Regions from separate parts of the Homo sapiens genome. Here regions 2 and 3 are each linked to region 1. Evidence: fine-mapped expression QTL. Tissue or cell type: whole blood. Region 1 holds a variant in brackets; each other region holds the start of a gene. All regions are shown on one strand. Distances are between the middles of the regions.

What was found.
Region 2: it holds the start of ST8SIA4, and the variant in region 1 is fine-mapped to the expression of ST8SIA4 in whole blood (INTERVAL, PIP above 0.99).
Region 3: FAM174A starts here. The variant in region 1 is fine-mapped to the expression of FAM174A in whole blood (INTERVAL, PIP above 0.99).

The regions. Positions count from the first base shown.
Region 1 is chr5:100,650,705-100,661,546 of GRCh38, forward strand. No RefSeq gene overlaps it. Among named protein-coding and RNA genes, the nearest start is that of FAM174A, 120 kb to the left of the region's middle. The variant G/A (reference allele first, on the strand shown) is at 6,178.
Region 2 is chr5:100,896,726-100,907,567 of GRCh38, forward strand. It overlaps ST8SIA4 (ST8 alpha-N-acetyl-neuraminide alpha-2,8-sialyltransferase 4), which reads right to left and starts at 6,557. Exons shown (of 5, transcript NM_005668.6): 1 at 6,118-6,557. The coding sequence starts at 6,230. It overlaps LOC107986437 (a long non-coding RNA gene), which reads left to right and starts at 6,683. Exons shown (of 2, transcript XR_001742825.3): 1 at 6,683-8,944. RefSeq lists enhancers at 3,680-3,899, 4,006-4,507, 5,645-6,214, 6,700-6,939, 7,720-7,959.
Region 3 is chr5:100,529,532-100,540,373 of GRCh38, forward strand. It overlaps FAM174A (family with sequence similarity 174 member A), which reads left to right and starts at 5,843. Exons shown (of 3, transcript NM_198507.3): 1 at 5,843-6,433. The coding sequence starts at 6,000. It overlaps FAM174A-DT (FAM174A divergent transcript), which reads right to left and starts at 5,712. Exons shown (of 5, transcript NR_172939.1): 1 at 5,630-5,712; 2 at 4,549-4,621. RefSeq lists an enhancer at 5,802-6,101.

The sequences.
Region 1 (10,842 bases):
CCTTTTTTTCCTTCCCAGGTTCCTCAAATTTTTCACATTAAATACCTTAGTTAATTAGAATCGTCATGCTTAAAGCTTTATTTCATAGAGCCTACAGCTGGAAGAGACCTTAGGTGATAAGGCAATGTTACACAAAACACTTTGAAAACTCTACAACTATTATAGTTGTACAACTAGTATATTTTATTATTTATTATCATAATATGCTGTTCAACCCAATAATTTTACAGGGATGTTAAGTAATTTTCCACAATTATTATTAAAAGTTAAGGCTAGAACACAGATCTTTTACATTTCATAGTAAGAAAATTCATATAATATCAGATTGCCTGCCTTATTGTTTACTCCCTCTTTTAAGTGTTGAAATAAAACCAAAATTTAAATATTATGCATATTTAAGAGAGTCCTTGTATTAGTCCATTCTCACACTGCTATAAAGAAATACCTGAGACTTGGTAATTTATAAAAAGAAGAGGTTTAATTGATTCACAGTTCCGCATGGCTGGGGAAACTTACAATCATGGCAGAAGTCAAAGGGGAAGCAAGGCACACCTTCTGTGGCAGATCAGGAGAGACAGTGTGAAGCGTGGAGGGCCACAAACTTTTAAACCATCAGATCTCGTGAAATCTCACTCACTATCATGAGACTAGCAAGGGGGAAGTCCACCCCCATGATCCAATTACCTCCCACGAGACCCCCTCCTCTTTGACATGAGATGTATTTTTTTGTTGTTGTTTAATGGCCAGGCACAGTGGCTCATGCCTGTAATCCCACCACTTTGGCAGGCCAAGGCAGGCAGATCGTTTGAGGTCAGGAGTTTGAAACCAGCCTGGGCAACATGGTGAAACCCTGTCTCAACTAAAGATGCAAAAACAGTTAGCCAGGCGTGGGGTGGGCTCCTGCAATCCCAGCTACTTGGGAGGCTGAGGCAGGAGAATTGCTTGAAGCTGGGAGGCGGAGGTTGCAGTGAGCCAAGATCATGCTCCTGCACTCCAGCCTGGTGACAGAGCAAGACTCCATCTCAAAAAAAAAAAAATTTAAAATCATATGGTTTATTCTTTGCATATATGGTCAATTCCTTTCTTTTCAGATTTTTGATCTGCATTGCTGTTATATTTAGTAATTCTTATTGATTATTAAGGTGGCCAACGTCAACAGATTATCTGTATTTTTTTACCATTATTTTACAAATATATTAACCTGCATGGTATTGCATATAGACATATTATATGTGTGAGTAAATGGGTGATTCTAGACTTTAAACATTTGTCACTAAGCTTCTGATGATACCTTTAGAGCTATTATAATCAATTTTATAGTATACTTGGTGACCTTAGTTTTAAGACTGCTGTTCACAATTTCATAGATTATTTTTATGATATAAAAGTAGCAAAAATTTTTGCAGATATTTCTCATAAAGGAATATTAAAAATTTGCGAAAGAAACATTACTAAGTTGGTCATTCATAAAGTCATAATTGCCATATTATATTTAGAAAGTATATTTAGGTATTTTCAAAGGCCCTCTCTCTCTCTCTCTCTCCTTCCATCTGTCTTCTGAAACAGATATCAGAATTTGAAAGATGTTGACATCCTTTGGGTAATTCCTTTTTATTGTATTTAGTAAATATTTGAGTGCTTATAAAAATTTGAGAGTTTATTATAGATCATCCTTCCTCAACTATTTTTCATTTTTTTCCAGATGCCAAGCCAGTCTTCCACAGACAGTTTCCTAATAAAGTTGTCTAAAGCATCTCTCATTCTAAATTGCTACCATCAAAATATATGTGAAGGGGGGAAGACTATTTTTGCTTGAGATTTGGGCATCATTGTCCTTCACTTCATAAAAGTGCATTTGATAGTTAATACATATGTACAGGAAAAAAGATTTTTAGTTCTTACATTTTAAAATACTCATACATTTTCCAATGAGTTTCATATCCAGTATCATGTTAAGACTTTGAAGAAAAGCTTAAAGTAGATAGAATAAATATTCTTGTGAATATTTTATAAGGACACTGAGTAAGAGAAATTAATGTTGAAATGTAGAAAACTACAAGATATCTGGAAAATATTTAGTTAACAAAAATCTAAGTTGTAACTAAATGTGGTGAGTACATTTTAGAACATATATGGTATTTAGAACTTTCAAATCAGCACTCTATTGACCTCCATAGATACCATTCACAATTATAAAACTGATTTTAAATTGCACGAGAGGAGTTAGGTCCATGAAAATGTGGGGTAGGAAACTCCAGAAATTGTCCCTTCTATAAAAGCAATGAGAAAACTGGCAGAAATGGTCAGAATCAACTTTTTCAGAATTCTTGTTACTAACCGAAGATTTATTTTTGGACTCTGTTATGTTTTCTGTCCGTTTCTTAACCTTCTATCCATTCCAGAGTTGAAGGCTGCCACTTCATTATTAAAGCTCTAGAGTATATTTTGGTTTCTAGAACAGCTGTTCTTGCCTTTTTATTCTTTTCCAAATGTTCTTGGATTTTTGTGAGGTTTACACTGGATTCCATTAAATGCATAGCTTATTCTCAATATAATTAATATATTTGCAGTCTTAGGTTTTTCTCAGTCAGAAACAGTATATGACTTCACATTTATTTTGATTTTCTTGTAACTTTCTGTAATATTTCATAACTTTTTTCAGACAGGTTTGCATAGTTTTCGCTATATTCATTATTTTATTTTACATATTCTGTAATGAAAAAGGATATTTATTATTTGTATAACATTTTAAATCTGTTATAGCTAATATATAGAAAACTCTTATTTGCTTGTTTACTTTATGTTACTATATATAGATTTTTACAGATCGTTTTTGATTTTTTATGTATCCAAATATTTTGTGTGATAGTATTTATTTTGATTTTCTTCTAACATTCATACCTTTTCTTGTGTGATCATACCAGTTAAAATCTCCGACTAGTTTTGTAACTATGGTGACTACAGCATTCTTGTTTAATGCATTTAATTTAATTTATTCACAGAATGATAAAGAAGTATAAGCTTTTGCAGACTGTAGAAAACATCTAATCCAGCTTTTTAAATTTCGACATGTAAGAATGGGGACCAGAATACTAAAATGACTTGCTTAAATTTATATAGTTCATTTATGCCATGGCTTCTACCGGAATTCCCCCTTGACTTGCATTCAAGCTCTTTAGTACTCTAAACTACTTTTCTTTACAGGACAATCAGTAAGTCCAATAGTCTCACTCTGCTTTGTCAAAATATTGTTATTTGATTCACACGCTGCTCAAGCTTGCCAGATGCACACACACACACACAGTGGAATGTTCACTCTTCACTATCAAACTCAGTGTTCCTCATAACTAGCAAAATAAATAAAGAACAAATCTTTTTACTCTGGCCTGCTATTTATTATGCATATTTATTTATTACATATATATCAGATTACATACATAGACTTTAGTTTACTAAAATACAGATTATATAAAAATATCAAATCAATTCTTCTCTGGCAGACGTTCAGTTTATATCTCGAATTCAAATAAACTTGATGCCCATTAGTGTAGTTTCATACGCAAGTCGAGGTTGGTCTATATGCCATGGCCATTCCTTTCCTGGAAACAGGTTATTTGACTGCAAGAGTTCTTTTTATGAAGATGGATCTAACGATTTTTGAAGTTCCATAAGACAATATTCTGTGCACCTGTGTGAATGTTTTGTCAGGATCAGTTATAAGATATGTAATTATATGGATGTTTACTAATTAATGCAAAACCCAGTGGGACTGCCAGAGAGTTTAAACAAGTTCTCTCTTGCATATGACGACAATTGTTCTGATGCGTCAAGTTTCATTAAGCTAACAAGGCCAATCACTTGAAGGGTTTTAGGTAGATTTGGATGATATTTTCACATTATGAACAAAGAGTCAAACACTGTTCCATGCCCTGAGAGCCACATTTCATTATGGCAGAGAACATGTACTCCAAAGTCCTCAGCTGTTTTTTTCAGTATAATTATGCATCATAATAAGACCCCGCTGTCAAGGTGGCTACATTTTCATTCTATTGGACATCTTTATTGAAAGGATTTATTCTTGTGATCATGAGTCATTAGAGTGACAAAGTCTACTAAGGGTAACTGTATTCTAATGGTTCCCAGTATTGGAGACCATGTATTATCTACTAGGGTAGAGTTAGGAACTGCAAACAAGAGGATGAACAATATAAGTTTTTTTCCATTTCTCTTCCTGTATACCATTTTCTAATTAATGAAGACCTAAAGAATTATGATCTTATCTCACTATACATTTCATGGGAGTAAAAACATTTTCTAAGTGTGCCATTTACCACTTGCTTTATCACCAAGACTCAGCCTATAGTCTTTTTGATAAGAAGCAGGGCTGTTATCACACAAACACCAGAAAGAAAGACAGAGGACAATACTGTAACAAGTGTTAAGCTAGGAATAGAGTCCTCAAATCATGTCTTTATAGATATCTTCTAAAACCTCTCCCTTTATATCTCCAAAAGAAGTGTGCAGGTTATCTGGAATTTAGTGCTTTCCCTAAATCTGTGTGGAATGACAGACTTTGTGAAGAAGTATAGAACATATCTGAGGCACTAGGATTCCTTTTATTTAATCCATATCAGCTTTCGTGACATACAAAACTAGGTCTTTTGGGGAGTTTGCATGCTCCTGAAGAGAGGTCTAGAAAAATATGACCAAGGAAAATCATTACTAATTCACTTACCCAAACTCTAAGAATTCATTTATCTCTTTCTGACAGCTGTGTAGAGTTCCAAGGGTAAGAGACCCCAAAAGAGAAAGCAGACAAGGTCATTGTTATGAAAAATATTTCTACTTCACTCGTAAGCATTTAAAAATTGTTTGCTTGTGCTAGTGAAAGCTTCTCAACATGCATCATAGTCCATATGTTTTGGCCTGACTTCTCACCTGTCCCCGCACTTCTTGAGTGGATTTTAGGAGTATGGACTGGACCTTGAGAATGGAATGCACCAGTGGCTCAACTGTGGCCCTAAAAGTTACCAGTGGCCAAATTTCCAGGAATAAGGCAGGAAGGCTGGTTGGTTAAAGGCAGAGCTGAATTACTCATGAATTTCTGCTCCTTCCTCAGTTTAGCTCTTCACACATTCCTTTTTAGCAATGTTCATCCATGGATTTTCCGAGTGCTATATCCTCTAGTGGAGTAGGAAATACTTCTTTCTTAGCCCTTTCTACCATTCAGATACAAGACCACAAAGACAGTTATGTGGTTTCCTACAAATCTTAAACCTGGAAAAAATTGTTAAGAATATAAACGCCATATAATACCACAGTGATAAACATGTGGTTTTATGCGTAGTGTATTTAAAATAAGTAAATATTGTTCAATACAATTTTATGAATATTTACTTCCCTTCTCTTTGTGTGTGTGTATATATATATATAATTTTAAGTCATGTTTAATATTTATATTACTATTGCAACAGCAAACTGCAACTACGCTAATTTTTGTTACAATGCTATGAAATTTGGTGACATTTTGCTGCCTATAACAAATATAGTGATTAATCATAATGAAATTCACATCTGGATATTAGGCTCAATACAAAAATACTTATTTCTAACAAATATGTCTTATCTATACTTTAACACTATACCAGGTAAAATAAGGAGAAGGGATGATTCCATCCTAAAATAAGGAGAAGGGATGATTCTGTACCTAAAGGTAGCACTAGGAAACAGACCTTAGATTCATTTGCTTTTAAGACCCTCACAGCTGCACATTCCTTTCTCCTCTTAGTTCTCTTCTTAGGCTCAAATAAGAGTATTTTGAGCTGTCAAAAAAATTGAAATTATTACTGATTATTCTCTATTTAACTTTATAGACAGTGAGAGGTGACAGCATGCTGGCAGTCCTCACAGCCCTCGCTAGCTCTCAGTGCCTCCTCTGACTGGGCTCCCACTTTGGCGGCCGTGGAGGAGCCCTTCAGCCCACCGCTGCACTGTGGGAGCCCCTTTCTGGGCTGGCCAAGGCCGGAGCCGGCTCCCTCAGCTTGCAGGGAGGTGTGGAGGGAGAGGCAGGAGCGGGATCCGGGGCTGCCCGCGGCGCTTGCGGGCCAGCTGGAGTTCCGGGTGGGCGTGGGCTTGGCGGGCCCCACACTCAGAGCAGCCGGCTGGCTCTGCCGGCCC[G/A]GGCAATGAGGGGCTTAGCACCCGGGCCAGCGGCTGCGGAGGGTGTACTGGGTCCCCCAGCAGTGCCAGCCCACCGGTGCTGCCCTTGATTTCTCACGGGGCCTTAGCTGCCTTCCCGAGGGGCAGGGCTCGGGACCTGCAGCCCGCCATGCCTGAGCCTCCCACCCCCTCCGTGGGCTCCTATGCAGCCCGAGCCTCCCGGATGAGCGCCGCCCCCTGCTCCAGGGCGCCCAGTCCCATCAACCACCCAAGTGCTGAGGAGTGCAGGCCCACCGCACGGGACTGGCAGGCAGCTCCACCTGCAGCCCCCCTGCAGGATCCACTGGGTGAAGCCAGCTGGGCTCCTGAGTCTGGTGGGGAGGTGGAGAATCTTTATGTGTAGCCCAAGGATTGTAAGTACACCAATCGGCACTCTGTATCTAGCTCAAGGTTTGTAAACACACCAGTCAGCACCCTGTGTCTAGCTCAGGGTTTGTGAATGCACCAATCAGTGCCCTGTCAAAACAGGCCACTAGGCTCTACCAATCAGCAGGATGTGGGTGGGGCCAGATAAGAGAATAAAAGCAGTCTGCCTGAGCCAGCAGTGGCAACCTGCTGCGGTCTTCTTCCACACTGTGGAAGCTCTGTTCCTTCGCTCTTTGCAATAAATCTTGCTACTGCTCACTCTTCGGGTCCATACTGTTTTTATGAGCTGTAACACTCACCGCGAAGATCTGCAGCTTCACTCCTGAAGCCAGCGAGACCACAAGCCCACTGGGAGGAGCGAACAACTCCAGACGCGCCGCCTTAAGAGCTGTAACACTCACTGCAAAGGTCTGCAGCTTTACTCCTGAGCCAGCGAGACCGTGAACCCACCAGAAGGAAGAAACTCTGAACACATCCAAACATCAGAAGGAACAAACTCCAGACGTGCCACCTTAAAAGCTGTAACACTCACCGCGAGGGTCCGCGGCTTCATTCTTGAAGTCAGTGAGACCAAGAACCCACCAATTCCGGACACAATAGGACATTGCTGGAAAAAGTTAATTTTAGTTTCAGATTCCAGGTGTGGTTTTGTTCCTCATTTTCTCTAATTTACCCAGCACCGGGCCTAGAATATAGAAGGTCCTCAATTAATATTTGTGAAATGAATGAGGAAACGAATGGAGGAATGTTGAGTAAAGACATTGGAGTGAATTAGAATCTCCTGGCTCTCTTGGTCAACGTTTGAATCGGATCTATAAGCCAAGGGTTAAGATCATTGTTGCTAATATTGTGGAGGTTACAATTTCTATCAGTTAACATGTTTCTCAGCATTATTACCTTTTAACTTTAATAGTTTTCTTGAAAGGCAACCTTTAGTACCATTGAATTGTACTGTATTAAAGTGCAAAAATTGCCATTGATTATACTAATTATTATCTGCTGAAAGTTTCGGTCAGCGAGACCTGAGGAAACAAGTCCTGCTCTACTTTTATTCATACCAGCTTGATATTCATATCATGTCATTTAATATTAGTTTTAGGTTTCTCTAAAAATATTACCTTTTGTAGACATATACAGACACCTATTTAGCACATGTTATATGCCTGAACAATGCTTAGCTGATGTAAATTTAAATATAATGGAAAGCTTCCAAGGGCTTTGTTACAACTGAACCAGTGGCTCTCTCAAATTTTTTGAGACATGCTCATTTTTTAAAAATTCTATTCATACTTGAAGATAGAAGCAAAAGTATTCCTGAAAATATCATAGCCAAGAAGTGGCATGAAATAATGAGAGTGATTAAATGAAATCTTTGGAAATGTTTATACCCATTGTATTAATCTGTCTACACACATTTAACTGCCTTTCAGATATTCATTTCAGATCCCAACACAAATGTTTCTCAGCCTCTTAAAGACTTGGTAGTTCTAGCTCTCTGGTTACCTGATGAATTTGTTGATTTAATGTTATTGTCTCTAATTCTGTTTGATAAAGGTTACTAACCTATGGTACTGGAAACTAGGGGGGAAGAACCTCTCTTCTGACTTAGCTTTTTGACTACTCTTGGTACCCTGCATGAATAGGTCAGTAAATCTTGATCTACTTGCTGCCACTGCACAGTTGAAAGGCTGAGAGACAGGGTTAGATCCTATATCATAAGTTTAGAGTAGGAGTTTACATAGAAATCTACTCAGGGCCACCATGTATATTCATACAAGTCATGCACTTTATTACAAGCTTGCTATGAATGGTTCCTTCAGTATTGTGCAGTACAAAACTTGCACCATCCTACAAAGAAGTCACAGGTCCAACTACTTTTTTCCTTTTCCCTTGAGATGCCAACTCCAGGGCATTTGTTTCTTACACGCGTAACTGTCATTTTAAAAGCATGGCCCTTCGTATTCTACTTTCACAATCTTAGATACAGAGAGAAGGCAAGCTATGGGTTTCCATACTTAGATTTGCTATCTCAAGTACCAACTCTCCTTTTATGGATTCCTTTTTCTGCAAGTGAGAAACATCCCACTTTCATTTTTAATTTTCTGTAGATAACTTAGCAATGGAAACACAATAAATAAGTTTTTGGGCTTTTAGAAACATCTAGAGTAAGACAAGAAGTCGAACCAGCCTACTGTGTATGTTGACATGGTGCTGGTGACAGGAGTTTTTAGGATTACAATTGATTCACCTATCAAACTTCCTTTTTTATTATTTTGTGAGTATCTGCTTCACCCACAGGACTGAAACAACATGTGTTTAAGAGCTGTGTCTGTTTTGTTCACAATATCTCTAAAATCTACCACAAAGAACTTGCTAACATTTTTTTGTAGAATGAACTTGTAGAATGCATGTTAAAAAGTCTTCCAGTATATATAAGCTGTAAAATAAAAATATTAATGATTTAATGAACATCTAGCAAGTCATGGCATCTGAAAGCAGAACTATAGTACTTAAAATATCAAATTTAACTCTCTATCTGTTATTGGTGTATAAGAATGCCTGTGATTTTTTCACATTGATTTTGCATCCTGAGACTTTGCTGAAGTTGCTTATCAGCTTAAGGAGATTTTGGGCTGAGATGATGGGGTTTTCCAAATATACAATCATGTCATCTGAAAACAGAGACAATTTGACTTCCTCTTTTCCTAACTGGATACCCTTTATTTCTTTCTCCTGCCTGATTGCCCTGGCCAGAACTTCCAACACTTTGTTGAATAGGAGTGGTGAGAGAGGGCATCCCTATCTTGTGCCAGTTTTCAAAGGGAATGCTTCCAGGTTTTGCCCATTCAGTATGATATTGGCTATGGGTTTGTCATAAATAGCTCTTATTATTCTGAGATACGTCCCATCAGTACCTAATTTATTGAGAGTTTTTAGCATGAAGGGCTGTTGAATATTGTCAAAGGCCTTTTCTGCATCTATTGAGATAATCATGTGGTGTTTGTCTTTGGTTCTGTTTATATGCTGGATTACGTTTATTGATTTGCATTTGTTGAACCAGCCTTGCATCCCAGGGAGGAAGCCCACTTGATCATGGTGGATAAGCTTTTTGATGTGCTGCTGGATTCGGTTTGCCAGTATTTTATTGAGGATTTTTGCATTGATGTTCATCAGGGATATTGGTCTAAAATTCTCTTTTTTGGTTGTGTCTCTGCCAGGCTTTGGTATCAGGATGATGCTGGCCTCATAAAATGAGTTAGGGAGGATTCCCTCTTTTTCTATTGATTGGAATAGTTTCAGAAGGAATGGTACCAGCTCCTCCTTATACCTCTGGTAGAATTCGACTGTGAGTCCGTCTGGTCCTGGACTTTTTTTGGTTGGTAGGCTATTAATTATTGCCTCAATTTCAGAGCCTGTTATTGGTCTATTCAGGGATTCAACTTCTTCGTGGTTTAGTCTTGGGGGGGCGTATGTGTCCAGGAATTTATCCATTTCTTCTAGATTTTCTAATTTATTTGCGTAGAGGTGTTTATAGTATTCTCTAATGGTAGTTTGTATTGCTGTGGGATCGGTGGTGATATCCCCTTTATCAGTTTTTATTGCGTCTATTTGATTCTTCTCTCTTTTCTTCTTTATTAGTCTTGCTAGCGGTCTTTTACTGGTTTTGACATTTTGTTCTTTAATCAGGGCCTCTGACCACAGAGACCCAGGGTGTGCTATGTAATGCATCTCTTCAGAAAATAAATATGAAAACTTCCCTAAAAGAAATGTCATGTTGTGATCAGTCATGTGTCATTCAGCACACACCAGGATATACTTTTATAATGTCCAATAATTAAAATGGTTGAATTACTTTCTCAAGGCCATACATCAATTTAGGGGGATATTACAAATGCCTCTCAGATAGTTTAAGAGCTCTAATAATAAAAAATGACTTGGAAAACAGTTTTTAGTCCTTATAAAAAAGAACAGTAAGGGCATAAATTTAAAAGTACAGATACAAATTACTTAAAGAATCCAATTTATTTTTTATTTCATTATAATCTGAGGGTTAAAATGTTTTCAATCTTGTTTTCCAATCTTTCCTATCTCTCCACTGCAGAGTATATTGTAAAAAACAGTTTATGTAAAGTGAGAGCGAGGCTCTGTCTCAAAAAAAAAAACAAAGATAAAACAATTAGTCATCTGAGTCTATCTTAAATAATATCAAAAATTCCAATAATACAGTAGCACTATCCTACCTAGAAGATTCTGGTTTGA
Region 2 (10,842 bases), 250 kb after region 1:
AAAACAAATAAGCTCTGTTTCCTCACTAGCTCTGTTTAGACAACAGAGACAGAATGTTTTGTAAGTGCTCCTCCATCTGTATAATTGTGATTCCTAAGATTGTAATTTCATTTTTACAGAAGGCATATATGCATAATAGAAGGGGATTCTGTTTTGAAGCAAGAATAACTTGGAATATCAGGTGATCTGGGCATGTTTGTGATTCTATGACTTGCTTGAGTTCCTAGACTCTATTCTCTTTCTAAGCCACAGTAGTCTTACCTTACCTTGAAAATTACAATAACTTTATGTAATATACAATGGCTTTGTGAGGATCAAGTAAGGCTCTGCATGTAAAAGTAATTTTTCAAAAATTGCATTGATTTCAAAACATCTCAACGAGTCACTTCCCTGACAGTTGGTGGAGAGACAGAGATTATAGTAGAGAGAAAACTCATTAAGTAGTCATTATTAGTAGTATTTTCTCTTACATTAAAAAAACTACCTCCCTGCAACCAATAGTGTCAAGCTAGTATATCATGTGGCATGGTACTAGCTGAGGTGCTGGTGGGAGTGATGATGCTGGCAGATACCTGTAATAGCATGCATGCCATTAAAACATTTATATCTGAATAAATTCATTATTCAATAGACCATTTTCTTGTACTTTATAAATGTAAACCCAGACTCAGAAAATCAAAAAGCTACTTCTTATGGTATACGAATAGTAACCATAGCCCTTTGAATATTTGTATTTATTTCTTTACATCGCCTTTTACTTCTTAGAAAGTCAAAAATATAGTTAAAAAATAACATGACTATTTGCTCCATAACAAAGTCTAAAACTGTGTTTTTTTAATGCAGGCAATCCTCTCCTAGTATCAATGGAAACATTGCCTGTGTAACAGCTATTCGATGAATTCTGTAATTGAAGCCTTATAGTTTGGTATTTTGGTTTGCATTCTTTTTTAAACATGTTAGCTTAAATCTGAAGCAGCTCAAAGCATCATCATAGGCTGCTACTCCCTGTGAAATTCATAATTCTATAAAAATTAATATCTTAAACTATCCTACTGATGAAAATGATACGTTTGCATGCCTATGCATGGCAAATAATGATTGCCTTACAGGGAGCATTTAGGATGCCAGAAAACACGGGGTGTGCTTTACTGACCATCGGCCCAGAAGTCAATTTTTATATTATATTCATAATGATAATAGCTACTTATGAATAAAAATGTGGTTATACACAGAAGCTAACGTTCACACTTTGGGAGATATGACTACATGATTTCAGGTGCAAACTATCACTATTTCTGTGGATAAGGTATATTTCTAATCATCACCTTATTAATTGATGTATCAGTGTCATCTTTTTCTAACCACAGATTGATATCATTATAATAATTATTTTCACCACCAATAAACTTTCATAGGAGAAATAAAAATATGCATGGGCTTGCACTCTTTAAGATGTGTGGAAGAGCTGGGTATGGTTGGCAGTGCCTACTCAGGAGGCTGAGGTGGGGGGATTACTTGATCCTAGGAGTTAGAGACCAGCCTGGGTAACATCACAAGTCCCTGTCTCTAAAAACTAAATAATTAACTACATAAATAATCTATAGATGATTGCTTCATTGACCTAGAAATACAGATACATTTTTACATGGCAGAATGTTTGATATGATGTTTTCAGTTGTGCCAAGCCTTTTCAGAATATCCAAGATTTAAAAAGTTTAAATCAGTGTTCTATGAATAAAATGCTACCATTTTACTCCGCTGTTTGAATTGCTTTCATTGAGCTGGTGATAAGCCAAATTTCAGACTTTCATCACTGGAAAGAATTTTGAATGAAAATATCTACAACTAGTCACACTTTTTATAGTCAGTGTGGGAGAAGGTCAAACTTAGTACAATCTGAAGCTCTAGAGTAAATTTCTCTGTATAAAGTTAAATGGGTCCCATGGGATGTTTCACTCATGACCTTGGTAGCATTCTGTCTCAGAAAAGGCTCTTCCTTCCCATGAATGCGAAGCTTGAAGGATGTTGCCACCCCCCTACTTGTCTCTCATTCCAGATCAGACATGACTTTTGAACAGCTGCACTGAAAACATTTATTGCATAGGATCATCTACAAGAAGATTCAATATGTACTTTTAAAAGGAAAATAGCGAAACACATCAACGAAATCACTCCACATAAATCAATATAATACAAAGGATCCCTGCTTATTTGGATCAAAGAAAAATTCACTAAGATGGTCATCTATGTGATACCAGTGGCAGGAATTAATCATTTTTTAGGTAACCTAGTGTCTACAAATATTTCCAGGCTTCACCACAATTTACTTCATTAGTTTTGCAGTACGTAAGACATATGATTAATTTCACTTCATGGTATTAGGTCTCAAAAGCCCCGTATTCCACCCTACTGAAACTCTTCATGACTTGGCTTTTGAATGTATTTGTTCCCTTTTAACTAGGTTAAACTTCCTCTTTAATATAAAAATTTAAATAAAGAACTTGCATGAAACTAAGCCTGAATACACACAGCAGGCCATTTTGTATTTTCATTACCTAAGTGTCAAACAACTAAAAATAAAGATGATAGTTTCTACCTTAATTTATGAGTTTTAGTAGAATTGTGAAATGTGAAATGTGAAGTAAAGTGCAAATTCTAGATTTCTGCACTCACGAGGTTGTGTTTCATCCTAGAACAAACTGGGACTAACTTTGCTGTCAATGGTAATACTCTAAGTAAAAATATTTATTTCCACTTTCAATTTTATCATAGGTTTTAGAACTAATATTGTTGATTATTTAGTAATACAACCTAAAGTACATAGTCAAATTATAAGAGAGATCTTTGGATAATAAGAAAAGTAAGTTAGTCTCATTTGTAGTCAACCAGAAAAATAGTGTGTAGCAAGATTTAAGGACTAACAAAACAAATATTTATATGACATTAAAGTTTATGTTACACTTTCAAATATATTATCTCATTAAATGAGGATGCTTACATATTTTACTTGTGGGAGCCTTACATTAACACATTTCCAGTTATACCCAAAAGTGCACAAAGAGCTAATTAAGTCATAAGCCAACTGTGAGGTCTACTAAGAAAGTAAAGTTAGTCAAGAACACACCACTTAATGCCTTCACTGCTCTTCAACTTAAACTTTATTAACTAATAGGCTTTTATGGAAGGAAATATGAATTTTAGATGTTCAATAATCATTACTTGACCTATGCTGGAACAATTCCTTATGTATTTAAAAAAACATGTCGCAGGTATTCCTTTGGAGATATGAGAATGTGGATGGTTGGTGAGAAGGTTGTGCTGGTTTTCTATTTTTCCATCTGCGTGGTATGACTGCTCAGTATTGTGGCATACTGTAAGAGTAACTATAGATGGGACCCCCATTTGCGGGGGGGAAGGGTCGAAGGGATAAAGGAACTGCCTTGTATTGCAAAATTGGTAGCAGAAAAGCTAAATATGAATCTGGGGTAGTGATGCAAGATTCAAGGACTATGGAAGGCCCTTCTTTGAAACTGCTGCCAAGCCACAAGGCTCGCAGTGCCCCCCAAAGGCCAGAGACTGCCTTGGTTACCTCACTTGAATACTGGACCGGGATCTGGAGCCGAACCTCCATTCCAGTTTACTCAAAACTCAAAACTGGCCTCTCCACGTGGCTTGGGTAGAAAGACAGTCAATGAGATGATTTGATGGTTTTATGAGTCAACTCCTCCACCAGAAGCGCTGTTTGGGAGTTGAAACGAAATAATGAGCTCGGGTCACAAGCTTTTCCACGAACCTTTCATCCTGGAGAAAAAGGAAAGTGCTCAGGGAGCCTAGCTGCCCTCGCATTGTTCCTGGCAGCTCCAACTCCTTGCACAGTCTTGGTCTCTCAGGAGACCAAGGCAGTCAGGACGCTACAGGGCACGGGTGTAAGCGCGACGTTCGCGGCCAGCCCTCTGCCTTGCCCCACTGTAATTGCGGGTTTTGATTAAGAAGGAGGAGCCAGTTGCCGACTGAGCTTTGAAAGTGACTTTGGGTGGGGGGTGGGGGTGGGGTGGGGGTGGAAGGAGGGGAGGGACCAAAAGAGCCTGAGTCCTGCAATAAAGGTTTCCCCCTATCTTCTCACTCATTCTTTCCCCCTCGCCGCCGGCGCTCTGGCAGCAGGGGATAACCCCGGTGCGCGCCTCTCTTCCTGTTTGGTTTACTCAAGCGCCTGCCCCAACGCCTTCTCAGTCAAGCTGGGAGGAAACTGCTTCAGCTTGAAAAGGATGCGGGCAAAAGCCCAGCCCGACTAGCTCAACCGCCGCGCCAGTGCCCGCCTCCTCTTCCTTAACGCCTAGGGCTGCGCCCACCAGCCGGCAACGTCCAGGAAAGGGCCACAGGAGAAATGACACCCGTGCAATGCGGAGTGTCCCGGCTCCGCTTCCCCGCAGGGACTCGAGGTGCGCTCCTTTTCCTGGCCACGGTTTAGGGAGGCTCGGAGATGGACACCTCGGCAGTATCTGGCGACCCTCTTCTCACTCGCTCCGCCCACTCCTGCTCTCCAGGGTCCCAGCCAAGGGCCCGAACCCTCGGAGTCCTAGTGAGCCTTGGCCGCTTTGTCTGGGATCAGGCTTATCCTCCTAGCCCACGGCCCGGGAGGGAACAAAGAGCCTCGACCCTCAAGCTCTAGCCTCTGCCTCTCATCGGAGCCCCATGCGCCCATTCATCACCTTTCTAAAGACCCCTTTGTCTGCCTGGCAAGCACAGGTCTGCAAGGGATGCCCACGCCCCTGCCCAAAGTCCTGCTTTTCTAACAACTGAGCTAGATTGGATTTTCAAGCCACCCAGTCTTGTGTAAACGACCTCATACCGGTCTTTTTTACCCCCTCAGAATAGACCATGTATAGATTCGTTGATGCATGACGACCATTCCAGCCCATTCCTTGCTAGCTTTTTCATTCTCTTCCAGTCCGCTTTGACTGTGCTACTGTTTTCCTGGTTTTCTACAGAATAGCAAGTCCTTCTGTAAGGATCAACCTGCATCTTGCTCGCTTAAATAAATGCTTATTACCTAGGGAGCAGGAATATTAAGAAATGGAGTGCAGGAAGTTTAAGAGCATGTGTGTGTGTTAGCAGTCCCATCTCTCTCTCTCTCACACACACATACACACACACGCAAGGGCTGTTTTCTTTGTTTTAATCAATGTCAGAGAAAAATATAAACTGGGCAGGCATCTCTGCTGGTGTGTAGTTTCTGATAGAGGACGCCTCCAAACCGGAACAGGGAGGATTTCCGAAACAGGACTTTGAATAGAGTTGACAATCAGGTTCACATCCTCAGAAAAAGCCTTCCAAGCTATGTCAGCAACACAAAGTTGCACCACCTCCTGGGTAAACTTCAAAGACACAGAGGCCAGCGGGTGGAAGGAAGTGTGATATTTAGAGAACTTAGTGGGGCGGGGGAGAGTCTGAACTCATCTAGACAAACTAAAAAAAATAGCAGAAATATAGTCTGTGTGAAGCTACAGTACCCAGTTTCTTTCTAAAACTGTAACCATGACGCCCATGCGTTTTAGCCGTAGAAGAACAAATAAGGAAGTATCCTTAGTGGTACTGGAGTTTCTAATTCAAATTATAACACATTAATCTATCCAACGTCAAATAGAAAAAAAAAAAGTAGAGAAACAGAGTATACCTATTTCCTGCTTTCTAAGCTTTAACTTCAGCCCTTCGAGAAACCATCTATCTCCAGTATCTCCTTAGGTGATAGGACATTGAAAACAGGCAACCGTTTGGTGAATAAAGACATTTCTCTTGAGTTCTGCCCACAGATTAAAAGGACAAGGACACACGTTCTTTGTTGACACTTCTGCAGTGACTTCTCCTTTGGCGAGAGAGCACCCAGGGCCAACACAACTGTCACCACAACCACACAGAGCAAGTTGAACTCATACTGGGAACAGCTTAGAGAAGCACGCACATCTCAACAACAGCCTTTGTTATTTAATTCATGACACTAACCACGCGCAAGCTCAAACAAACACACATGCTATCCTAACCATCACTCTACCCTCTATATTCACATTTCATTTATGGCTTGACTTTTTGTCATATCCTGAAATGAAGCTTTGCATTTACCCGATGAGTTGCGTCTCCTGGTGCTCCTCAGTTCTTGCTATTTCTTTTGTCTTATAAAAGATCAGGAGCAGACTTATTGTGCAGATCGTCCACCTCTTCCTAATGGAGCGCATCTTGGGTGCCCGAGAAAGTCCTGGTTGCCCCAGCTCCCGCACCTTCTCTTGATATAAAGGCTCCGTTTTGGGGAGATAGTCGCGGGGGTGAAATCTGTAAAATGCGAGGAGAGCTTGGAGCCGGGATCCCGGGATCAGATCACTGGGGTCTTCTGTGGCCGAGCTCCCTCTGGTCCTCGAACGCTGCCCAGCGACCTCTCGCCCTGTTTGCGCCAGCTCTGCCAGGGTCGCTCCGCGCCGCCTCCCTGGGGCTCAGGTTTCTTTTCAGATGAGACACCTTGTGCATTGGAGGTGGCGGCAGCTTCTGCAGCTGGGTTCGGGGGCGTCACTGGCCCTTCCCTCTTGCTAGGAGATAAACGCTGCGCAAAGCCAATCACCAGGCTGAGGGGGCGGAGGCTGCTTGGAGAGTAACGTCCCCGGCTCTGCCTGCTCTGTGCCGGGAGAGGAAGCTCACAGTGCTACGCGCCTGCGAGCTCGCGCACATACACATATACATACATACACACATACATACATATGCACACACACGTACACGCAGAATCACACACACTCTCCTGGGACATCAAAGCATCAGCTCTCTGGACCTGGGAGCTCCAAGATAGTCTATCCGCATCTAGGTGAGAGGGCACCTCGCCTGGGGACAGATTACAAAAGCGTCCCGCCAGAGGAATGCTTCAGGTAGAGCTAGGGGTGGATTGCAAGAAGAGTACCTTCTTTCAATCGCTTTTGCTAAACACACACCCTCACACGCAAAAACACGCCCTCCAAGGTGGAGTGAAACGGGGTGCGGGGGTGGGGACGGCGGTGGAAGGAAGAAGACTTTTATTACTCAATCTGGAAAGTGCAAATACACACATGAACCTGTTAGCCGATGGGCCCACTCTGCATGGGTGGTGGACGACGACCCTGGCTCAGGATTCTGCAGGAAACAAGTGATGATAGAGGTGTCATTAGGAACTTTATGGATATTTATGCGCCTCCCTTTCATTGCCATTTGGAAACTCCTCACGCAGAAGTCAAGGAAACTCCAATCCCACTTAAACTTCATTGCGGAGAAACAGAGTTCTGAAAAAAAAGCAGCTACCATGGACCTCTCTTTTAAACGCAAGTACACCCACACACATTCGGATACCAAGGAAGGAAGGAAAGAAAGAAAGGAAAGAAAAGGGAGGGGAGGAAGGAAGAGCAAAGTCCTCTCTAAAAGTCTCAATTATATATATAGCCTCTGATTGTCACCTCTCCTCCGTCCCACCATTTTTCGTACTTGTATTGGGTGGCAGGGACACTTTTCAAGAGTTCTGTGTTCGATTGTTCACTCTGAGTACCTCTCCACCATCCTCCAGTCGTTGCCCTCATTGGGAGAGATGCTTGCTACTCTGCTAGTACCACGCCTTGGTTCCGGTCTTTACTGTTGGCTGGTAGGTCGGGAGGCACCTCTAGCATGAGACAGTGTCTGGAAGCCAGGATTTCCCTCATCTATATGCGCCGGTCCCCAGCTCCCTGGTCGCCAGGGTTTCTCTCCAGTTGAATTCCGTGTTCCTTCAGGTTGAACAGTAGCTTCAGCGGTTTTTCACGCTCAGAAATGATGAGGCCCAATTCCAATCTTCCCTCCCGCCGGAAGTAAGAAGGGGAATTCTGAGTTGCTTGTCGCCTGACAGCTTAAAATAGCAACGAAAACAGCCAGCATCTTTGCTTAAAAACCCAAGGTTCCCGCCAGTGTTTACCATACTTCCTCTAGAGTTTAAGAAGTTAAGAACTTCCGAGATCTTGAATTTCCTCTTTGCAGCACAGCGAACGGGGTCGGGTATAAAAATGCTCCAAGGAGCAAGTAATTACGAACGTTTATTGACACTACAAGTGGCCCACAGGGAGCCTTTCGAGTTTATTGATGTCTAGGCAAATCCAGCCTGCATTAATGCATTTCTGTTAGATTGACTTCTGTTAGACTCACTTTTCTTCTGGCAAAAACTGCCAGAATAAAACAGCTTCTTATTTAAGTTAAAAGGGATCCGGGGCTGAGGGCAGGGGTCGGGTGGGAGAGGGATGCATGGTTAGGATGCTAAATTCTCAAGGATAAACTTTGATTTTTAAACAGTAGACAACTATATTTTAGATTATAGGTAAAACATCACTCTCTGTCAGGGATAGAGTAATATGCATCGTTTCATTAAACTCATTATTTCTTAAGCAATGGTTATGGGGCAGGCAATGTGTGCGGAGATGGGAACACAAAGATGAATAAAACTTAGCATCTAGTCAGACACAAATCCTACTCACTCAAAGGGGGCATCTTTTAAAAATAATAATTTACAGTATGGCAACATGAATCAGAAACATCATTTAAAATATATATGGTATCTGAGTAAGCTCCTGGGTTGAAGCAGATGGGGTGTTTAAGCCTTTTGAAGCCCGGAAGATGAGTTTCCGGGTGAAGGGGACACACAGACTCCTGTTTTCAAAGCTGACAAGGAAGTAAGCCAAGCAGAGGGAGGATAGAACATTGCAGGTGGAAAAAGGAGTATGCGCAACTCCAGAGAGTAATAAAACTCTGGTGCTTTGGGGCAACTTTGAAGTGGCTCAGTACTGTTAGAAGGGAAAGTGGTAAGGGAGAGTGCTGGTCCAAAAGTTTCGGTGTACTCATAATATTCTATGGCTCCAGAGTGTGGAACAGTCTTCTGTAATGAGAAAGCCACAAGAAAATCTTCAAGAGGAAAGTGAGTATAATCTATATTAAGCTTTAAATTACATTAGGGGAAACTACTTACCTAGCCCAAACAGGAAAAAACAAACAAACAAACAAAAAAAGAAAAGAAAAAAAAAAAAAAAAAGAGCGAAACGAAAGCAATCAAGAACTAGTTATAGGAACACATAAGACAAATTTAAATGTCCAGAAGAAAAATAAGTGAACTCTCCAATTGTATAATGCTGCTGTTTCTGAATTTTTTAAGTACAGAACTTTTTATATTAAGGCGAGCAATTCTGAATGACTGATAACTGTTCAGCGAGACTCCAGGAATTCTTCTTCCCAAATTAAAGCAATTTAGTGTTTGGAGTGTAATTGAATGCCATTTGTTTAATATTGTTAGATTCGTTAAATATATAGCCATTATAATTTGCCAATTAAAAAGAAGCCATACAGGCCAATACTTAGACAAAAGTGAGGACAGCATGGTTTTTTCTCAATATGTAAATAGGTGCAAGAACTATAAATATTGGATAAAAAGTCTTTTGGAATTAACTTCTATTAGAATGCTTAGTTTGATGTTCCTGAGCACCAAAAGACTATAAAGAAGTCTTTTGGAATTAACTTCTTCTATTAGAATGCTTAGTTTGATGCTCCTGAGCAAATAAGATTGTTTCTAAATTTTCATTTGATCTTTGGATTGTAAGTTCTTCAATAAAGAGAATATATTTGTCTTTATTCAGCACAATTCTACAATTATACAATAGCCTATAAATAAATAATGTGAGTAATGGCAGCTGGTTTTAAAATGATACTTTATCCTTTGACTTAATGTAAATTCATGTTTTCATTGCTGGCTGTACTCTCAAATCTAGCTGGCAAGAAATGAATAGATACTTGCAGTCTCATGGTGGAGTTTTTAATGACCCATGACATTTTTAATAGACTTTTTTTTTTTTAGAAAACATTTAGGTTTATGGCAAAATTGAACAGAAAATAGAGAGTTCCCATATAACTCTACCTTCTCCCCATACTCAGTCTCCCTATCAACATTCCTCATCAGAGCAGTACATTTCTTTTTTTACATTCAATGAAACTACATGTACATATCATTATCACCTACAGTACATAGGTCATATTAGGATTCATTCTTGGTGTTGCACATTTTATGGGTTTTGCCAAATATATACTGAACATATATTCACCATTATAGTATAATACAAATTAGTGTCACTGCCCTAAACATCCTCTGTAATCTGATTATTCATGCTTCTTTCTCACTCCCGGTCACCCCAGGCTCTGACTTCCCTAATGTTTTTACTGTCTCCACAGTGTTGCCTTTTCAAGTGTCATATAGTTGGAATCATAGAGTATGTAGCTTTTTCTGATTGGATTCTTTAACTTAATAATATGCTCCATTATTTTCATGGCTTGAAAAACAAATTTTTTTTCATGGCTTGAAAGTCCATTTTATTTTAGCACTAAATAAAATTCATTATATGGATATATCAAAGTTTATCCACTCACTTACTGAAGGACATCTTTATTGCTTTCAAGTTTGGGCAATTATGAATAAGGCTGCTGTAAACATCTGTGTACAGTTTTCTGTGTAGATGTAAAGCTTTCAACCCAGTTGGGTAAGTAGAAATAAATAAGATTGTTGGATTATATGGTAAGAATATGTCTAGTTTTGAAAGACACTGCCAAAGTGACTTCCAAGGTGGCTGTACCATTTTGCATTCCCATCAGCAATGAATGAGAGTCCTTGTTGTTTCATATCCTTGCCAACATTTGCTGTTGTATTGGTTTAGATTTTGACCATTATATCAGATGTGTAGTAGTTGTATCTTACTGTTGTTTTAATTTGCAATTCCCTGATATTATATGATGTTGAGCAATTTACACATGTTTATCTTCTATGGTAAGGTG
Region 3 (10,842 bases), 120 kb before region 1:
TTCACTCTGATGATAGTTTCTTTTGCTGTGCAGAAGCTCTTTAGCTTAATTAGATCTCATTTCTCAATTTTTGCTTTGGTTGCAATTGCTTTTGGCATTTTCATCATGAAATGTTTGCCCGTGCCTTTGTCCTTACTGGTACTGCCTAGATTTTCTTCTCAGGTTTGCATAGTATTGTTTTACATTTAAGTCTTTAATCAATCTTGAGTTAATTTTTGTACATGGTGTAAGGAAGGGGTCCAGTTTCAATTGTCTGCATATGGCTAGCCACTTCTCCCAGCACCATTTATTAAATAGGACATTTTTTCCCCATTGCTTGTTTTTGTCAGGTTTGCCAAAGATCAAATGGTTATAGGTATGTGACCTTATTTCTGAGTTCTCTATTCTGTTCCATTGCTCTATGCATCTGTTTTTATACCAGTACTACTCTGATTTGGTTACTGTAGCCTTGTAGTATAGTTTGAAGTTGGGCAGTGTGATGCATCCAGCTTTGTTCTTTTTGCTTAGGATTGTTTTGGCTATTCAGGTTCCTTTTCATTCCATATGAATTTTAAAATAGTTTTTTTTTTTTTTACATTCTGTGAAGAATGTCAGTGGTAGTTTAATAGAATTAGTATTGAATCTATACATTACTTTTGGCAGTATGGCCATTTTTGCAATATTGATTCTTCTTATCCATAAGCATGGGATATTTTTCCATTTGTTTGTGTCCTCCCTGATTTGAGCAGTGGTTTTGTTTCTCCTTGAAGAAGTCCTTCCCTTCCCTTGTTAGCTGTATTCTTAGGTATTTTATTCTTTTTGTGGCAATTGTGAATGGAGTTCATTCCTGATTTGGCTGTTAGTGTATAGAAATGCTAACAATTTTTGCATTGATTTTGTATCCTGAGACTTTTCTGAAGTTGCTTATCAGTGTAAGAAGCTTTGGCGCTGAGACTATAGAGCTTTCTAGATACAGAATCATGTGATCTTCAAACAAAGGTAATTTGACTTCCTCTCTTCCTATTTGAATACCCTTTATTTCTTTCTCCTGCCTAATTGCCCTGGCCAGAACTTCCAATACTCTGTTAAATAGGAGTGGTGACAGAAGGCATCCTTGTCTTGTGCTGGCTTTCGAGGGGAATGCTTCCAGCTTTTATCCATTCGGTATGATATTGGCTGTGGGTTTGTTATAAATGGCTATTATTATTTCAAGGCATCTTCCTTCAATATCTAGTTTATTGAGCATTTTTAACATAACGGGATGTTGAATTTTATTAAAGGCCTTTCTACATCTATTGAGATAATCATGTGGTTTTTGCTTTTAGTTCTATTTATGTGATTAATTACATTTATTGATTTGCATATGTTGAACCAACCTTGCATTCCAGAGGTGAAGCCAACTGGATCGTGGTGGATAAGCTTTTTGCTGTGCAGTATTGGTCTATTCTGAGATTCAAGTTCTTCCTGGTTCAGTCTTGGGAGGGTGTATGTGTCTAGAAATTTATCCATTTCTATGAGATTTTCTAGTTTATGTGCATAGACGTGTTTATAGTATTCTCTGATGGTTGTATTTCTGTGGGGTCAGTAGTAATACCCCCTTATCATTTCTGGTTGTGTTTTTTTGATACTTCTCTCTTTTCTTCTTTATTAGTCTAGTCAGCAGTCTATTTTATTACTTTCTTCAGAAAACTAGTTCCTGGATTCATTGATTTGTTTAAGAGCATTTTGTGTCTCTATCTCCTTCAGTTCAGCTCTAATCTTGGTCATTTCTTGTCTTCTGCTAGCTTTAGGATTTGTTTGCTCCTGGCTCCTAGTACTTTTAGTTGAGATGTTAGGTTGTTAACTTGAGATCTTTCTAGCTTTCTGATGTGTTCATTTAGTGCTATGAAGTTCCCTCTTAACACTGCTTTAGCTGAGTCCCAGAGATTCTGGTATGTTGTCTCTTTGTTCTCTTTAGTTTCAAATAACTTCTTGATTGTAGCTTTAATTTCACTATTTCCCCAAGAGTCATTCAGGAGCAGTTTGTTTAATTTCCATGTAGTTGTGTGGTTTTGAGCGAATTTCTTAATCTTGAGTTCTAACTTGAATGCACTGTGGTCTGATAGACTGTTATGATTTAAGTTCCTTTGCATTTGCTGAGGAGTGTTTTACTTCTGATTATTTGATCAATTTTAGAGTAAGTGTCATGTGGCAATGAGAAGAATGTTATGCTCTGTTGTTTTGGGATGGAGAACTCTGTAGATATCTATCAGGTCCACTTGATTCAGAGCTGAGTTCAGGTCCTTAATATCTTTGTTAATTTTACGTCTTGATGATCTGTCTAATATTGTCAATGGGGTGTTAAATTCTCCCACTACTATTGTGTGGGATTCTAAGTCTCTATGTAGGTCTCTAAGAACTTGCTTTGTGAATCTAGCTCCTCCTGTATTGGGTGCTTATATATTTAGCATAGTTAGCTCTTCCTGTTAAACTCTTCACCATCATGTAATGCCCACCTTTGTCTTTTTTGATATACTCTTTTTTAGCACTGTGCTAAATTCTGAGTATTGAGTAGTGAATAAATGAGATTGACCCTTGCTTCATAGAACTTAGGTTCAAGTGGTAAAAATAATCACACTAATTTTGGAATCTTAAGTGTGTGTTATAAATGAAACATACAAGATCTATACTACAAATTTTGTAAACTGCTGTTTTAGGTAGAGTGGACAGGATAGTTTGTCTCTTAGCTGCTTTCAGGGAGCAGGGTAAGGCAGTTGCTTCTGGCTGGCAGAACTGCAAGGATTAGGCATCTTAATGTTGAGTTTCAGTGTAAAGAAGCCCATTTGTGGTACACCCTAGTGTCAGCTTCCAAATGGCATTTATCAGTAATAAAATGCCCTTTTGATTTCCCATCTTCCTTACTCAGAACTTCATTCCACATTATAAATGGAATAGAGTTAGTATTTAATGCCTCTCCCAAAAAATAGAATAGAGTTAGTATTTAATGCCTCCTCCCAAAAAAGTCCAACATTCAACTTGTCAAAAAAAAAAAAAGGAATGACAAAAAAGAAAATGTGCATTATCTTTCCTTCCTTCCAAAATCTGATTTTGTCATGTTCTTCATCTTGATTAATGGCATTATCATTCTCCCAGATGTGCAGGCATAAAACCTTGGTATCATTTGTTACCCCAAATTCCCATCTGCAGCAGTCCTTGGCAATAACTGGGACATGCAAAGAGCTAAATGATTCTGAAATCTTAGAATCAAACTATTGTTTCCAAATGATTAGGAAAGCTATGTTCTAATGTTTCTCAAAATGCAGCTCTCAATTACCCAAAACAGAATAAGAAAGGGAATTTGTTAAAATTGGAGATTCTAGATCACTATTTTAGAAATTCTGGACAGAATTTTTGGAAGTGGAGACATGGACTATATATGCATTTTTAACAAGCTCTCAGAGTGATTTTCATGTACACTGAAATTTAAGAATCTCTTTCCTTTCCCTTACTACCTGCATCCAGATATTGTCATATCCTGTCCATTTCCCTAACTTTTTTCCCATTAATCCAATCCTACAGGCCTCTATAGCCCTAGGACTATATACTAACCTGCTTGGTGCCCAGCACTTTCTACCTTCACTTAAAATGGCTATATTACTGCCAGGATAAACTTTTTAAGTACAGATCTCTCCTGATATAGCAACCAACTAACTAAACAACAACAACAAAAACAAAATCAGATTTTTCAGAGATACTCAATTCTCAACAAAAGTGATCTTAAGCAGGCAACATACCTGGAAGTTACTGTGCTCTTTTTAGAATACCATATTGTTTGTAAAACATCATTATATAATGACATCTTGAAATCTGTCATGGGAATGAACAAAAATTTTCCTAGGAGAAGATACTGTGTTTTGTTTGTGCAATAGAAAGTTACAATTTTGAGCACAAATATCTATGTGAAATACAATCTTTCAAACTAAGTAAAATTAGTTGTTTATGAATTTTTCTCTTAATTTTAATATACTTGTTCATTTACTTGTTATCAATTGGCTTGCAAACAAGTTGTACCAAGCACAGGATATAAAAAAAAAATACATAAATAAGGGGAAAAAATCTCAGAATGAGAAATTTGTATCAGGTTACTGCCACATTATTATATTCTCCTAATTAATACCATGATTTGATTCTAGCTTCTTAATCAACTATTGCTAGAATAATGTGGCATAATCAATAACCATAGAAATATCAGTGGCATACAGCAAATAAGCATTTATTTTTCACTTCTTTGGTCAAGCTGGGGTTGACTAACTTAAGCTAACCTTGGCTGCATTTGGTGCCAGGCTATAGGTTTAGTCATAGTTTACGCCAGATATCCCACAGTCTACTAGGATCAGAGGACTAGCTGGGTCATATTCTTTTCAAGGTTAGGGCCAGAACTTTCTGTGCAGAGAGGGCAGGCAAGTGAAAGGGGGAAAGGAATAATGAGAGAGGTAGGTGTGTGTATGCATGTGTGTGTGTTTCTGGCTCTCTCTCTGTATATATCTACCTGTATCTGTCTCTCTTTTAGCAATGAAAACAATAACTTACTCAAAAGACCCACGTATACCCTTGACAGGCATCTCATTGGTGAGAGGTACATCATGCGGCCACTTCTAGTTATCTGCACAAATTGAAGTTCCATATTACTGAAGTCAAACAGGCAAGGAAGACATTATTGAAGACTACTGCTGTTGGGAAAGGGGATAAAACTCTTCTAATCTCAACTCCTCTAAAAGAAAAAAAGGAGTGGAGAGTTATTAAGAGCTATTTTGGGAAGATCACCGGCCACCTGAGTTTGCTGATTGACTTTACCCAAAGGAAAAGTAAATTTTCTCCTCCATGACAGGAGGTGGTTTTACAACTTGAAGCGAGAAGCCTACAACAGTTAGGTTCCTTTCCTCTCACACAAAATAAGAGATGGCCCACTACCTTCCTTGCTGATTATATTTCAAAGGCATGATGGCTTTCCATACCCTTGAGATAGTTTTCAATTATATAACTGGCCAGAAGCTTTAAAAAATATTTACATCTGAAAAGGGAAGAGAAATAACTTACAATGGTAAAGTTTTCTAAAGTAATTTTTTTTAATATACTTTAAGTTCTAGGGTATATGTGCACAACGTGCAGGTTTGTTACATATGTATACATGTGCCATGTTGCTGTGCTGCACCCATTAACTCGTCATTTACATTAGGTATATCCCCTAATGCTATCCCTCCCCCCTACCCCACGACAGGCCCCGGTGTGTGATGTTCCCCATCCCGTGTCCAAGTGTTCTCATTGTTCAATTCCCACCTATGAGTGAGAACATGCAGTGTTTGGTTTTCTGTCCTTCTAATAGTTTGCTCAGAATGATGGTTTCCAGCTTCATCCATGTGCCTACAAAGGACATGAACTCATTACAAGCAAATGCTCTTTAGAAAGGGAGGTCAGGGACCCATAGGCAGGAAAAAAAGCCTGCTTAAAGCTTGTAATGAAGCTAAGGAAAACTAAGCCCTTCTGGCTTACAGATTAAATGTGTTATTGCAGTTTGACACCAATGAATTCAGATTATGAGTTTCCAATCTCTCAGGGTTCCTGCATGAGAGAGTTGCTGTACATTTTACACAATCTCTTTTTGTCTACTTACTTTCTTAATACGCATCCTTGACCGCTCCTCACTAACAGTGAAAAGAACAATGCTTCCAAAACGGTCACGTCCTCGCTTTTTACACAAGTGCGCGTGCGCACTGGGCGCTAGGCCTCTGACGTCACCAAGTGCATCCGCCCCTACAAGTTAGCAACCGAAGGCGTCCTTAGCAGCAGTGGCCGCTGAGATGTACGAACTTCCGGTTCTCCGGGCAGCTGCCACTGCTGTAGCTTCTGCCACCTGCCACGACCGGGCCTCTCCCTGGCGTTTGGTCACCTCTGCTTCATTCTCCACCGCGCCTATGGTCCCTCTTGGAGCCAGCGTGGCGGGCCTGGCGGCTCCCGGGTGGTGAGAGAGCGGTCCGGGAACGATGAAGGCCTCGCAGTGCTGCTGCTGTCTCAGCCACCTCTTGGCTTCCGTCCTCCTCCTGCTGTTGCTGCCTGAACTAAGCGGGCCCCTGGCAGTCCTGCTGCAGGCAGCCGAGGCCGCGCCAGGTCTTGGGCCTCCTGACCCTAGACCACGGACATTACCGCCGCTGCCACCGGGCCCTACCCCTGCCCAGCAGCCGGGCCGTGGTCTGGCTGAAGCTGCGGGGCCGCGGGGCTCCGAGGGAGGCAATGGCAGCAACCCTGTGGCCGGGCTTGAGACGGACGATCACGGAGGGAAGGCCGGGGAAGGCTCGGTGGGTGGCGGCCTTGCTGTGAGCCCCAACCCTGGCGACAAGCCCATGACCCAGCGGGCCCTGACCGTGTTGATGGTGGTGAGCGGCGCGGTGCTGGTGTACTTCGTGGTCAGGACGGTCAGGTGAGGCAAAGCCTCGGTGGGGCACCCCCGTGGGCCTGAGATACGCAGGCCGGTGATCTCCAGCAAGGCTGACTTCTGTGACCCTTTCCCCCTTCCCCAGCATCAGGGACTCCTGCTTAAGAATATGATATTGACTTTCTTAAAGGCCTGTTACCTTTGGAGCAATTTAAACCTATAACTAATTGCTGCCTTTTGTTTATAAATGAGTGCCCTACCTCCAAATCTCTTCATCTGACCTACAACCCACGTCAGCCTCAAAGGGCACCCTTTCTCTGAAGTGAGGATAATCTTTATTCCCTAGAATTTTGACTACTCTGTCTTGTAATACTTCTACCTTTCTAGTCTAAATTTTTGTATACCTAACTGGTCAAAATTTTGCCAATCAGAATGCAAACTCTTTAAAGACAGGATATCTATTTAGTAGGTTTGTGAGTCTTACAAATTATTTGTACAATGCTGCCACTTAATAGGAAATCAATATATATTTGAGTGGATTAATAGTAATATAGAGGTGCCTTATGGATATTTTATTTTTATAAAATTCAGGAGAAGAAAAGTTCTTCCTTACTATCAGTGTTTCCTAGTATTGCCCTTTAATCTGCCACCTAAGTGGCAGAGAATCACCTTCCTGAAGAGTTGACATACAGAGCCAAGACCTCACCATTAGGAGAAGCCAGCAAAGAGATAAGGTGAGGGAAAGCTGTCTAGCAGTTTATTTCATTATAAAATAAGTGTAGAGGGTAGGTTTGCAGCTTATGTTTGTTTATTGTTTTCAAAATTCACGTTTTTCCCATAAATACCCTCTGTATTGTAATTTAACATATTTCTTTAAACTGATTATTTAAAGCAAAAGTTTCCTTTTAAACAAGTCGTTATTATCATGAATGGAAAACCAACATCACTTGGCTAGTTAAAAAATAGTGTAAGCCAGTGGTTCTTGACATGTGGGCCAGGGAACCACACAGGTGGGAGTTTCACTTAGACCTCTTCAGGGCATCTACAGTATTAAAACTATTTTCAAAATAATACATTCTGTTACAGGCTTATAGGGTACAAGTAGTTCATTGATATTGTTTCAGATTCCACATTGCAACTAATCTTTAAGAAACTGCTTGTCAAGTTTTGGTGTAGTAGTATCATAAAGGAATAACCACTCATATATAAAAAGGCTATTAAAATGTTTCTTTCCATTCCAAGTTTATATCTGTGCGAAGATGGAATTACTTTGTATGCTTCAACCAAACAACACATTGCAAAGGATTTAATGCAGAAGTAAATATAAAAATCTATCCATTTCCTATTTTTTGTTTCTATTTTTTATCTACTCCTATCACCTTAAGCCAGATATTAAAGGGAATTGGAAATAAGAATCTAAATGTCATTCTTTTTACGTTTTTTTCTTTTTTGAAAATATAGTTGTTTTTCATAAAAGTTATGTTAACTTGTAATGTGTTTACTATTATTTTAAATCAGTTGATAAGTATAGGTTTTCTCAAGTTTAATTAATATGGTAAAGTTGATATGTGTAATTCACATAAATATAAGTTATTTTGGGTTCCTGAACAATTTTAAGAATGTAAAGAAATCCAAAACAGCAGGCGTAAGCAATATTTGAGAACCACAGCTGTAAGAAATATTATTTGAGCTAGATATTGTTGGTTCACAAAGGCTAGCAAATCTGCACTCACACTCTAAGTGTTAAAAGCATATTACCACCAAACTGAGACTTTCTTCTTAATATAAAGAAAGATTAAAAGAATATTGAAACAAATTATTTTCCTCACTATATAACTGTTATTTACTGCTGTCTGTACATAGTTCCTATAAAAATGCATGGCCCCTTGAATGTTGTATCTCTTATACATAAAAATGATAAGTATAATGATAATTTGGGGGGAATATTCCTTCCTTGTTTTTTTCCTTTTGCTTCCACCTTTTTAATTATTTTAAATACACATATTTATTACCATTGATTTTCTGTCATTAATGTTGTAAAACTTGGACAGATACAGTCCTTCCAATATGATCCTATTGGATGACTTGGTAACATGATGTGTGTTAACAGCCAAATTCTGAACTATGGCTAATAAAAAGTGCATTCTTTAACCAGCATCTAACATATTCATGCAGTCCAAGTCCTACATTTAGTTGGCTGCCTGGCATCCAAAGCTTGAATGATGCTAACAATGTCTGGGCAGTGTTCCGAACTCATACTTTTTGCTTCCAGATTATGGTTTTCTTCATTATCTTGGTGAATGCTCATTTTGGCTCCCATTTTCAAACTATGTGTGACAGTGCACTGAAATTAGTTATTTGTGCCAAGGGAGAAGAATGGGCCAAAATCATTATTTTCTTAACTGATTTGAGGTGATGCAGAAAATATTTTACTTGTAAAATTTTATTACATTGAACTACATGAGACTTTCAAATAGTTTTGTTTTTATCTAATTCATTTATAATGAATATGTAGGTAATAATAACTTCCTTTTTGAGTCTGGAAACATTCCAAAGAACAGTCAGGTTCTCACTGTAGAAATACAAAACATATATATATATATGTAAGTGTATATATATATATGCAAGGAACACGGTAGGGACAAAGTAGATTGCCTAAAATGAACACTTAATCTCTATGAAAAGAGACTTTTCTGTCTTATTCTCCCCTATATCCTCAGTGCTAAACATCATGTGCAATATATGATGGGCACTGAATAAGCAGTTGCCTAATGGATGAGCACTCTTCATGTATTATATTGCTGAACAGGTAGGTGGTAAGGATTTGGAAATTTAAGGATAATTGCTGTTTACTGACGGAACAAAGAACTGCGAAGATCTCAATTAATACTTTTATTTCCTTCCTCTCAGTAGGACATTCTCTCCACAGTAAAATGTATAAGGCCAGGGAGCGGGGGTGGGGGGAAATCACTGTAGATGGTTGTTGGTTTTAGCACGTATGGTAATTATATAAAGCAATTTTTGTCATAGCTGAATAATGATTCTTGCCTTAAAAGCAGGGAATTATTTCCTTTTTCATGCCATGTCGTTGGTTTTTCGTTTTTTATTCAATTTGGTATATTGGAAGGAAATCGATGCTTAAAAGTTTAACCCTCTACTTTTTTTAAAAAAAATCTCTATGCTCTTTAGCAAGTCTCTTCCAATTTCAAGAAAATATGGTGCTCATGCTCATATAGTGGAGATGAGCATGAAATTTATTATGATAGCCTTTATTTAAGCAGTCAATATTTATTCAACTGACCAGTACTGGGCACTGGGGATACAGTTTTGAGCAAAACAAACATTTCTGCTTCTATAACACTTATATACTAGAGGAGCAGAGGGGCATTAACCAAATAATCACATAGATAAGTACATAAAGGATGCTATGAAAAGGCATTAAAATGCAGATCCTATTAATACATATTATATAGGAAATAAAGAATATTAATTTAATTTGAATGCTTACCCAACCCTATACGCTAAGACACAACGTTAGGTTTTTTCAAAGAACCATACTTTGTAACTGAAAGATTATTTTTGAGCTTTTACTTATCATCCTAATAGCTGATAGTTAATTGATAATTTATGTGTCAGATATAATACCGCATACTTTATGTGCATTTTGAAATTCTTGCAAAAACCTTCAAAGTAGGTAATATCATTCTTACTGAGGAAATTTAGGCTGAGCAAGTTTAAATAACTTGCCCAAGCGTGCACATACAGGACCTGCCCAAACCCAGCTCTGCTGGAACTTACCTAACATGTTCAACCATCATGCTGCTTCCTGTGATCATTTAAAGTAACCAATTTAAAGCGATATTGCACATAAAGATGGCTAGCTTATTTATGGAGAAAAATAAAGTGGATAGTATATGCCCAGTGCCTTTCTGTTTAAAACACATGATTTTGTTGGATGTTAAACCTCCAAATTTTACCTTTTTGAAAAGTGAGTTAACATTTATTGATCATCATATTTGTGCCAAGGTGAAATAATTTTGTTTCCTACCTCAACTCCCTGCATTCCTTCCCTCATCCAAAGATTTTCCTGATTTACTACACATAGTCAGGGAATGGTAATATTTTAAAGAAACGTCTGTTAATATGGTCACACATATTTCCACCTTAGTGGAGCAAGTCACTAATGATTTATGCATGTGACTTTAATCACCATTTCTCTTTTGTCTGGTTACTTAAGAATATGAGTTGTTTTCTTTTTCTCCTAGAAGTCTTGTGGTACCAGCCCTATTTACAAAATTATAAAACATCCATAGAAATCACTTAATTTAAGCAAAACCAGGAGTACTTTTGACTATTTAACCATTTATGTATTTAGTGACTGTCACTAATTCAGTAAATATTATTTACCACCTATTGGGTGCCATTACTAAGCTCTGTGATGAGGGTTAGTAGTG